Linked DNA regions of Homo sapiens. The protein of the gene in region 1 purifies or fractionates together with the protein of each later gene. This does not show direct contact. Each region holds a gene or a part of one and is shown on either strand. Other genes may lie near its edges.

The links. Proteins that work in one complex are often made in the same cells at the same time.
Region 2: the proteins of CPNE9 (region 1) and GTPBP1 purify together in Homo sapiens (affinity purification with mass spectrometry; one large-scale study listed by BioGRID and IntAct). This does not show direct contact.
Region 3: the proteins of CPNE9 (region 1) and RIC8B purify together in Homo sapiens (affinity purification with mass spectrometry; one large-scale study listed by BioGRID and IntAct). This does not show direct contact.

The regions. Positions count from the first base shown.
Region 1 is NC_000003.12:9,702,582-9,706,632, forward strand, and holds the start of CPNE9 (copine-9), read left to right. Parts: upstream 1-1,251; 5' UTR 1,252-1,415; coding exon 1,416-1,483; intron 1,484-1,591; exon of another isoform or gene 1,592-1,610; coding exon of another isoform or gene 1,611-2,005; coding exon 2,006-2,046; intron 2,047-2,167; coding exon 2,168-2,214; intron 2,215-2,309; coding exon 2,310-2,413; intron 2,414-2,882; coding exon 2,883-2,919; intron 2,920-3,136; coding exon 3,137-3,139; intron 3,140-3,405; coding exon 3,406-3,482; intron 3,483-4,051. UniProt on the Homo sapiens protein: Probable calcium-dependent phospholipid-binding protein that may play a role in calcium-mediated intracellular processes. Plays a role in dendrite formation by melanocytes.
Region 2 is NC_000022.11:38,708,944-38,712,443, forward strand, and holds part of GTPBP1 (GTP-binding protein 1), read left to right. Parts: coding exon 1-13; intron 14-1,156; coding exon of another isoform or gene 1,157-1,229; intron 1,230-3,500. UniProt on the Homo sapiens protein: Promotes degradation of target mRNA species. Plays a role in the regulation of circadian mRNA stability. Binds GTP and has GTPase activity.
Region 3 is NC_000012.12:106,840,682-106,844,181, reverse strand, and holds part of RIC8B (chaperone Ric-8B), read right to left. Parts: intron 1,594-3,500; coding exon 1,365-1,593; intron 331-1,364; coding exon 235-330; intron 1-234.

The sequences.
Region 1 (4,051 bases):
GAGAGTAGTGGTTCTCGGGCCTAAGCAGGTCCTAGTCACCTAGAGAGCCTGATGAGCTGTGCACATTCCCAGGGCTGCCTGAGCTTTAGCCTTAGGGTTGCTAAGGAAGTTGCCTGGGAATTAGGAGCTGGAGGATCTTCATTTTTTTCAGATTTTTTGAGATGGAGTCTCACTGTTACCCAAGCTGGAGTGCAATGGCACAATCTTGGCTCACTGCAACCCCTGCCTCCTGGGTTCAAGCGATCCTCCTGCCTCAGTCTCCTGAGTAGCTACGTGAACGTGCCACCATCCCCAGCTAATTTTTGTATTTAGTAGAGATGGGGTTTCACCATGTTGGCCAGGCCAGTCTCAAACTCCTGAGCTCAAGTGATCTGCCTGCCTTGGCCTCCTAAAGTGCTGGGATTACAGGCATGAGCCACCGTACCTGACCAGGATCTTCATCTTTAACAAGTTCTGTAGGCAGCAGGGTCCTGGTACGGGTGACCTGCATCCCCTACCTTGAGCCCTGCCTATGGAGGAAGGACTGGCTTCTGAAGCTTTGGAGATAGCAATTGGTGTGCATGTGTGGTGGGTGAGAGCCTGGCTGACCACCACCCTCTTCTACAGTGTAACCTACAGTAGATTGCGTCATGAGAGTGTGTCCGCATCTGTAACGCCATGAAAGTCGTGAGGGTTAAAGGCATGGGCAGACAGCTTTGCACGGTGCTCAACAGCCACCATTTACTGTCATCATTGTGAATACCCAGAGGACAAATCATAAATACCAGTGAATGTTTACTGAGCACTTGCTGTGTGCTAAGTGTTTTCCTTGGGTTATCTCAGTAAAATTTTACAGCACCTAAAGTAGCTGCTGTTAAAGGCCTTTCTGACGGCCTTTCACGGTTGAGCCACAGAGATGTTGAGTAACTTGTCCAAGGTCACACAGCTACTAAGAGATGTACTTTTCCTATTCAGAGACCTAGGCAGGCTGGGAGTGGGAAAAGACAGAAACACTAAGGGAGTGGCTCAGTAAGAGGCAACAATTCCAGTGCCCACCAGGTGCCCCAAATGTTTCAGCATCATGGACAACTCTAGGGGGCTTGGGTTTCCACCCCAGAGACTTGCGCAGGGCAGACTCTACCAAGGTGTGGGTTGGAGTTGGGAGTCGGGGTGAGGTTCCCCGCTGGCTCCAGGCTGCTCCAATGGGGCGGGGGCCGCCCGCAGGGCCGGGCGGGGCTGTGCTGCCATCTGGAGCCGCTGCCGCCGGCGGCCACTGTCAGGGCGCGAGCGGCTGGAGCGCACGCAGGGCTGGAGCGAGTGCAGCCGCCGCCGCCGCCGACACCGCGGCACATGGGCCGGCCCCGCCGCTGCCGTCGCCCCTAGCCCCAGCAGCCCTGGTCTCGCAGCCTCCTGCGGCTCTGGTCGCCCGACCAGCCATGTCTCTCGGCGGAGCCTCCGAGCGCAGCGTCCCGGCCACCAAGATTGAAATTACCGTGTCCTGCCGGTGAGCGGGCCGCGCTGGGGAGGGCTTAGGCACTGGCACTGCCCCAGCCCCAGCCAGCCGCGGGGCTCAGCCTGGGCAGGGGCTAGACCCCCGGGGAGAGGCGAAATTGGCTGGAAAATCACAGCTGATGACAGGGCGAGTAGCTGGTGGGATCGAGAAGCGGGGGGTCTTGGGCAGCCCCACCCCGAAAAAAGGGCTCAGCCTGCGGGTTCAGGGGGTGGGTCGCAGATATCCGGTAGGAGCTCGGCCCCAGGAGGACAAAGTTCTGGGGCGAGCCCTCTTTCCTGGGCCCTTGGAGACAGTGTGGGTGCGTTCGCGTCCAGTCCGCAGAGCCATGGTTCCTGGACAGCGATTTCCGGTGCTGTCCAGAGTGCTGACAGAGCGGACCCCGGCTGGGGGTAGCCATGGGGGACAGAGGTTCGATGCGGGCCCCATGCCTCTCCTCAGTGCCCGGCTCAGAGCCGACTCGAGGCGGGCGGACTCCAGGATGATCCACTCTGTCTGTCTGTTGCTTTTCTCTAGGAACCTGCTAGACCTTGATACCTTCTCCAAGTCCGACCCCAGTAGGCGGCTCCAGGACCGGGAGGGGGAACTTGGGGTCTGGGCGCGACTCAGGGGCGGGTGGAGTCGGGGCCAGGGGTGGGAGCCGACCTGACGTCCTTCCCTCCCCGCCCCCACCTGCAGTGGTGGTGCTTTACACGCAGAGCCGGGCCAGCCAGGAGTGGCGGGAGGTGAGTCCCAGAGCCCCCTCCCGGCCCAGGGCGTCGCCCGGGAATTCCCCTGCCCGTCTGCACGTCCCACGCTGACCCTCCACCCCCCTACCCAGTTCGGACGGACCGAGGTGATTGATAACACGCTGAACCCAGACTTCGTGCGCAAATTCGTCCTCGACTATTTCTTTGAGGAAAAGCAAAATCTGCGCTTCGATGTGTGAGGCCCCGCCTGGAATTCTGGCTTGGCCCGCCCCCGACCTGGATCCGCCCGGAATTCTGGCTGGCCCCACCCCCGCCTCGCCTCCGGCCTGGTTCTTCTCGCAGGCCTCCCTCCCATTCTGAATGGCCCCCTCTAGCCTGAGCCCTGCCCTTTTATGAGATGCGGTCCAGTTCCGTCCCCCGCTCTGGCCCCGCCCACAACTCTGCTCCTATCGCAGCTCCACCTCAGGCCCGACCCCTTCCACACAACCCTGCCCCCAGCAGCCCCTGACTTGGCCTCGGCCCAGGCTTGACCGTCTGACTACTCAGCCCACCCTGACTCCTCCCCAAAAGGAGACCAAAGCTGAATTCGGGTCCACGGCCGCCCATCCCTCCACCCAAAATTTTCACCAAGACTCGGTGCCCGACCCCTTTCCACCCTCTCCCCCACCCAGCCCCACCCCACACCGGTTCCACTCTTTTCCCAGGTACAACGTGGACTCCAAAACCAACATCTCCAAACCGGTGAGCAAACGTTTCCTCGAGGGTTGGCGGAGCGCACAGGAGGCACTTAGATGTGTTCAACGACTCTCAGAACTCCTCCCAACCCTCGACCCAGACCCCATCTTCTTCAGGCCCCCAACCCACCCTCCTGGTCCCTCTCCTCCTGCCTGAGTGTCCTGCCTGTGCCCCCTACTCACTGTTCCTCTTCCTTCTTGGCTGCCACTGCTGGGACCTGCAGAAGGTGAGGCTGAATGGGGCTGGGCAGAGGTTGGGGGTGGGGGTGGTATTGTGGAGAACAGGCTTGGACTGATGACCCACTACAAGGCAGAGATTGCTCGCAGACCCCTTCTTTCACACCCCCTCCATTAAAGCCCATGTAGGGCCGTGGCTCTTGCACCACTCATTCGCCTGGGAACTGCCCTGGTCCTGTGCAGGAGCATCACTGGGGCTAGGCTGGGACTCAGCACTCAAGAGCTTCTGGTCTTGCTGACTCCTTGTCCTGCATAGGATTTCCTGGGACAAGCGTTCCTGGCCCTGGGAGAGGTGATTGGAGGCCAGGGCAGCCGAGTAGAGCGAACCCTCACGTAAGCTGAATAGGAAGGGGTGTGGGAGTGGGGTGGGGGCTTCCAAATTCTCCCTCCCAAGGATGCCGCTGACTGATAGAAGTGGAGGCTGGGGTTGCCCCTGGTCAGGAGCCTGCCCCGGCTCCCATCACCCTCGTAGAAAAGTCCAATTTCCAGTGCTCTGCCCGAGTCAGTATCAGGCCTGATATGTCTTTTCTTTTCTTTTTTTTTTTTCTCTCTCTCTCTCTGTTTCTCTCTCTCTCTCCTCACTCTTTTTCTAAGTCTGATTCAGCCTTTAAGGTCCACTTCCAAGCCCCTCTCCACAGGGAAGCTCCCCCGGACTAAGTCAAATCCTCAGGAATTACCATTACATCCACTCACTAAATATGCATTAGCATGTTTTATATCCCACACCCTGTTCTAGGCACCAGGGCTTCATTCATTCCACAAACACTATGTATACATACCCTATGTCAGCCACTGTTAAAGGGGATTAGCTTGCAATGGTGAACAAAACAAAGGTTCTTGTCCTCAGGGGGCTGATACTCTAGTTGTGTGGGGAGGACAGTACAAAATAGACATAAGTAAAT
Region 2 (3,500 bases), on another chromosome or scaffold:
GGGCAGGGATCAGGTGAGCATAGTTTTCCTTTCACTTTATTTTTAAAAATTATTGGGCCGGGTGCGGTGGCCCTGCCGCCTGTAATCCCAGCACTTTGGGAGGCCAAGACGGGTGGATCACCTGAGGTCAGGAGTTCGAGACCAGCCTGGCCAACATGGTGAAACCCCATCTCTACTAAAAATACAAAAAATTAGCCGGGCGCTAATTAGTGGTGGCAGGCGCCTGTAATCCCAGCTACTTGGGAGGCTGAGGCAGAAGAATTGCTTGAACCTGGGAGGCGGAGGTTGCAGTGAGCCAAGATCGTGCCATTGTGCTCCAGCCTAGGCGACAAGAGTGAAACTCTGTCTCAAAAAAAAAAAGAAATTATTTAGAGCACATTTTCCCCGCTTTTTGAACTTTTCTGCTTATGTGTCTCAGTTACAGTGATTCTTTAGTGTCTGCAGAACTGTTTGGAGTACATAAAAGTACAAAGTGAATGTTAATTCTGACCTTAGTGGCCATAATATGCTTGACTTTCCAAGCAGTTTTACAGATGCTTCCTTTTTACCTCCAGTACTCTCTATTTGCATAAGAGGAAATGAAGCACAAAGCAAAGGAACTTCTTGTCTAAGGTAATAGGGCAAGCCATAGTTAGGTCTAGAATTAAGCTTATTCCTGGGCAGCTGGAGGTCTTCCCTTCCAGGCCCTGTTTACAGATCCCATTGCGACTTATTTTCTGCTTAGCAGAGGACCTCCGTGATTCTTCTTGGTGTCAGCAGAGAAAAGATGCCCAGAATTCCTCTCTTGTCAGGCTCCTTGCCCCAGACCCTACTGACTATTTAGTCTGGATAGCTGGGATAACAGAGGTCGTCCTCTCTCCCCACTGGATCCTGTCAGACACATAGGCTTGTAACCATTCTGAAAGGGACTGGTTATTGTTCTCCAAGCTGCTTATTCCTTGTAACAGAACCTACTATTTTAGAGGAAGGCAGCCCTCACAACAATCCCAGAGTATATTATGGTTTCTTCCCCTGGTCACTCCTAGTTAGCAACTTCAATACAAGACCTGCTTACCTTCATCTTCATTATGGGATTATCTTTGCTGAAATGACAGCTGGGGTTGTTAACGATTATGAATTCAGCCCATACCAGCACTTGTCTCTGTCATCTTTGCAGGAAGCCCAGGTGGGCCTGGATGCATCATTAAAGAAACACTTTTCTTTGCTGAATGTAGGCTTTGTAAAGCCAGGTAATAATTCTTTTGTAGTTTGAGTTGAAGATTGAAGAAATCTCAAAATCATTCTTAAACTATTTTATACATATCTATTAAGTATCTTCTAAGGCCTGCCACTGTTGCAAAGCTCTTTTGGAAACTTAAAATCTGATCCCTGCCCCAAGGAGGAAAGATGGCATATACACAAATAACCTCCATGGGAAACAGTATTTGGAAATGTTGTAAGAGTGACATAAAGAAGAAGGATTTGCTCTCCAGATGCAGCTGTGCCTTCCTTTGAAATATCTTTCGTATCTGTTCTTTCCTTCCCATCCTTGCTGCTACCTCTCTAGTTGCGGGTCTTACCACCTAAAGGAAGGCATGGTCAGAGAGATAGGCAAACTAAGAGGTTGCGTATCAAGAAAGGGAGAGAGTTGATTAGCATTATCAAGTGCTACAGAGGCAGCAATGAATGCCAGGTTCAAAAAAAAAACATTCCATTTGTTGACTAGGAGATCATTGGTAGCCTTTTGAAGCTTTGATGTCAGGTACACATCTGGCCTGCTCTAATAAGATGAACCACTCAAAGATCACTTAATAATTGTAGAATTTCAGGAACCACATATAGGTCAATTTTGACAAGTGTTGAGTCTGTTTTTGAAGACCCAGATTCTTAAGACTCCTCTTTCCCCTCATCCTTTTATGTGGACTCAGTGAATTTTACCATGCCTTGACAACTCACACCCCACCCATGGCAATTAACCCACCCATGGCAAACCCACCCATGGCAAAGCGTAAGATGTCAGACATTTATTAACACATCTGTACACCCAAGCATCATCCTCGAATCCACCAGTTGGATGCTATTAGATTCATAGTGACTCCTCCTGCTGGAATTCTTTACAAATAGAAAGAGATCATAACTAGTTAAACAAGTTGAACAATAATCAGAAGACTAACCCAGATACACGGCCCCAAGGAGTCAGTTTCATCAGTGGTTTCCTTGCTGCTTCACCTCTGTTTATCACATCCTTTCTCTGTAAAATGGGAATAATGATACCTTCCTCATCCTACCTCAGAGAAATTTTGTATAGATAAATAAGACATTTAAAATTGTAACAAATGTAGAGGAATGTGCTCTTTAAGAATACATTCTTAATGTTGATATTTTAAAAGGGGGCAGTCTGGCCTAATCTATAGGATCTGGAACCTGGCAGGCCTGGATTTGCCTACTGACTCTTTTCCTTGTCTTAAAATGGGGATAATAATGGAATCTCTCCCATGGTGTAGTAGTGAAGATTAAATGAGAATTCAAGGAAATCATCGTGAATAGTGAGCATTACATAAATGTTAGCTAATATTAGTAGTTGCAGTAATAATTTTTTTAAGGGTCCCAGGTTGTAGTTGATTTATCATGAGATTTCTTTGAAAAAGAAGACTCATGCCTATAATCCCAGCACTTTGGGAGGCCAAGGTGGGCCAATCACTTGAGGCCAGGAGTTCGAGACCAGCCTGGCTAACATAGTGAAACCCCATCTCTACTAAAAATGCAAAAAATTAGTTGGGCGTGGTGGTGCACTGCTGTAATCCCAACTACTCAGGAGGCTGAGGCATGAGAATCACCTGAACCCCGGAGGTGGAGGTTGCAGTGAGCTGAGATGGCGAGAGTGAGACTCTATCTCTAAAGAAAAACAATTAAAAAAAAAAGTTCAGGGGACATAGGAGGAGTATTAAGTATTTTAAAATTATTATTATTATTTTTGAGACAGAGTTTCTGTCTGTCATCCAGGCTGGAGTGCAGTGGTATGATCTCGGCTCACTGCAACCTCTGCCTCCTGGGTTCAAGCAGTTCTTCTGCCTCAGCCTCCCGCGTAGCTGGGACTACAGGTACCTGCCACCACGCCTGGCTAATTTTTGTATTTTTATTAGAGACGGGGTTTCACCATGTTGTCTAGGCTGGTCTTGAACTCCTGACCTCAGGTGATCCCCCTGAGCCTCAAAGTGCTGGGATTACAGATGTGAGCCACCGTGCCCGGCCAAGGAGTACTAAGTCTTTGTGGAAGAGTCAGGAAAGGCTGTGAAGAGGAGCTGCCCTTTAATTGATTCTAAAGGATGAGTAGGAATTTTCCAGGTAAATGGAGGGAATAGTGAATGGGCAGAGGAAACCATTCTCACAGAGGCATGGAGGCATTGGAGACAGGAATATATAGTGGACCAAAAGTAATCCAGTAGGATGAGTGGAGAGTATGAGGTCCTGAGTGGTAGGAGGAGAGGCTGGGCAGAGGAAGGCAGGGCTCAGATTCTGAG
Region 3 (3,500 bases), on another chromosome or scaffold:
AGACTTCATCTGTTGTTCAATGCCCAAAACACAGCACACACAGCAGATCTCGGTAGCATTTGCTGAATGAATGACTCAAAAAATACACACTTCTTGATTAAGAAGATTTCAAAGATTAAGACTGAGTTTCTGATTATCTGAAACAAAATCATTGTGAGAAAATTCAATTAATTCTATGTTTAAAATGCACATAAAAAGACTAACTTTGCAATGTAATATGCATTAAGCAGTTACCTGATCTTTGAGAAATTTTCGGATGTTTCGATGGGCTCGGGAACATTCGGTTAATAAGCTGAGAACTGGAGTTAGACCCTCTCTATAGCTGCTTCCCTATAAAAAAAAAAACCATATGTTTTTGAAATACGTTAGTTTTGTTTCTAACAGTATTACTTTCCTTCATGTAACTGAGGATATCAATTTGTTTTTGAGGTGGGGACTTTTTTTTTTTTTTTTTTTTTGGGAGAGGGAGTCTCCCTCTGTTGCCCAGGCTGGAGTGCAGCGGCGCAATCTCGGCTCACTGCAAGCTCCACCTCCCGGGTTCACGCCATTCTCCTGCCTCAGCCTCCTGAGTAGCTGGGACTACAGGTGCCCACCACCACACCTGGCTAATTTTTTGTACTTTTAGTAGAGATGGGGTTTCACCATGTTAGCCAGGATGGTCTCGATCTCCTGACCTCGTGATCCACGAGGTGGGGACATCTTATGTTACCTAAGCTTACAAACTATTTTAAAAATTCTTTTCCTAAAAACATTTCCATTTTATCATCTTCATGTTTACTATTGCCTTTTTTGGTCCTTCCTGGATGTTCCTACATTTTCTAGGATTCCCATGGGCTTAGCCAAAGGGCTTGAATGAAGCAAAATTTTGGTGACTGGACTATGCTACCTTGCTGCCTTTTAATACAGATACCTGACAAAGTGAGTGATAGACCAGAGAATGTATAAACAGCTCACAACAAATGGGAAATTGACAAGGTCTTCTTTTTTCTTTTTTTTGGGAAGATGTCTTTTAGGTATTATGAAGAGTATTTAGCAAGTTTTTGGGGGGATATTTTTTATTTCTAGGACTCACAAAGTAACAAAATGGAACAGTAATTACTTTTTCCTTTGTTTTCAAGCACTAGTCATAATTTTGGTGTTGCATGAACATAATTTTCAGCATTAAACAAATAAATTAACATGGCTTCAGCAATTTATCATATATTGTAATAAACTGCTTTCCAAAGTAAAAACAATTATGCAGCACATCAGTCAGAAAAAAAGCTTAGATTTAAAAATCATGCTCTGTGATGTGTGTCTGTATGTATGGCACATTTACATTCTTTGGAAGCATCTTCCCAGGGCTTCCATTTTATCAGCCTTACCTTGTCTATTCTCTTCTCCATAAAATTCAGTAAAACATGAATGGCCTCCATATTCATACCATTGTATACCATGGTATTGTTTTTCAAAACTGTTTCTTTCTCAGCTGTTTTATTACTGGGCAGTTCATCTAGAGTCGTTGCCTCTTGGGCTGTTTCTTCATGGGTTAACGGACAAATGAGAACATCCAAACAAGAGACTGGAACATTGCTTAAAAGGTTGACTGCATTGCTGAAAAGCAATTAAAAAAATACAATATTTTAACTTGATTGAATAGTCCTTTAAAATGCAAACATAATAAGAAGTTCAAAAGTGACTTTTAAGAGTCAATTAAAATATTTCTTTTCCAAAAATGAGCCATTATGGACACTTGACACTTACTATGAGATAGGAAATAAAAAACTGTTTCAAATATATGTTGTACAAATTAGAAAAAAAACAAATGTTGAATAGACAGACACAATCACATGATGTCATGTCACTTTCTGAAATGCTAAAATAGGAATTAGTGAGCTTTAATGCCAGCTCCTTAATTTTATTATGGCAACAATGCTAGCTTTGCATTTCTTCCCTGGGATTTTAAATCCTTTTGTGGATCCACTGGTGTTTTATTATTCCTTAGATTACAACATAAAGCATTTGAGAAACACTGAAAATAAGCAGCTTATCAGTAGCAACAACAATAAACCAAATATGGTAGAATTAAGTTTTATTCTTTCTAAATGTAGAAAATACAATTTAAAAATCATCCCAATTTTTGTAAGACATATGCAGAAAAAGGGAAATGGAGTTTTTTCTCTCTTTCTTATCATCAGGTCTCTAAATGAAGTTAATATAGCTATTTCTAATCTCTAGCCCCTAGGCCTTTCAGCTGTGTATTAATGAATACACGAGACTGGGATGCACACCAGTAGGGGGAACCCAAACCTTATATTTTTGGCATTCCCTAAAAACCTTGTTCTGTTGTTCAGTGTACAAAAGATTAAAATGACACTAACAATTTCAAAATTAGATATGTTCTCAACAAACATATTTTCTTCCATGAGTTATTTCATATTCTTTCATCTAAAAGGAGTGGTGGTGTTCTGGGCTAACTGGCTCTTATATGCCTGTGCCTTAGAACTTCCTGATCAACAATGGAAAGACAGGCATTTTATTTCCTAGTGACAGAGAAGCAGATCTAAAAATAACCACATCCTGACTAAAAATAAACTCCTGCAAATGCAATTTAAAAGTCCAACCACTTGGAAACCAAATTTAGAGCTTAATCTATCTGATACTATCTTAATTTAGACCAGTAGCTCCTTCTACTTTAGATTATAGTGACACCCTAAAAAATAAAGCAAAACAAACAGAAAAACAAAGAAATAGAAATACAAAAATTTTTCTTTCCTCTACCCTGAATTGTGCTCCACTTCCCCAAGAATGAATATTTCCTTTCTTTTTATATTATGGAAAAATAAAAACCAGTAACAAGTCAGTTGAAAAGTTAGACAATGCAGAACAGAAAGTGGTAATGTATAGGGCATCAAAAAAATGAATCAAGAGCAAAAAATAATTTAACAAGTCATATGAATAAATGGTTCCTAGTAAAATACAAGTTATTTGATTGCCCTCACTAAAACCAAATACTGCTGCTGCTACTGGTGTTATGCACAAAATCTCTATATTTGGTTATTGGTAAATAATCAAAGGTGGCTGAAATATAAGCTTTCCCCAAAACTTTCTCTTAAAACTTTTTTTTGCAAATATCTGTAGTTTATCTTATCTATAGTTCAGAACGTTTTGCTTCTATCTTAAGCACTTAGAAATTGTTACTAAATAATACCATAGATTCATTGAGAATAAAAGGGGGGAAATAACTCTACCTTAGAATTATTTTCAAAAACTGTATACAAGCCATTCTGAAATGTTATGATTTTTTCCCTAAACATCAGGCAATAGGCTCTTAAATACACTGACCGTATGATGCTCTGAACCTACCAGAGACCAGATTGAAAAGTTTCAGATGGGTCATTTCATTACAAAGGAATGTTTCCCCTTTAAATTCGTTTAAAGTAAGCAGTTTCCAGGAATTCAGTAAATTTAAGAAACCAAATGTAGAGTTTGATTCAACAAATATTTGGAGGTTTTAGGCT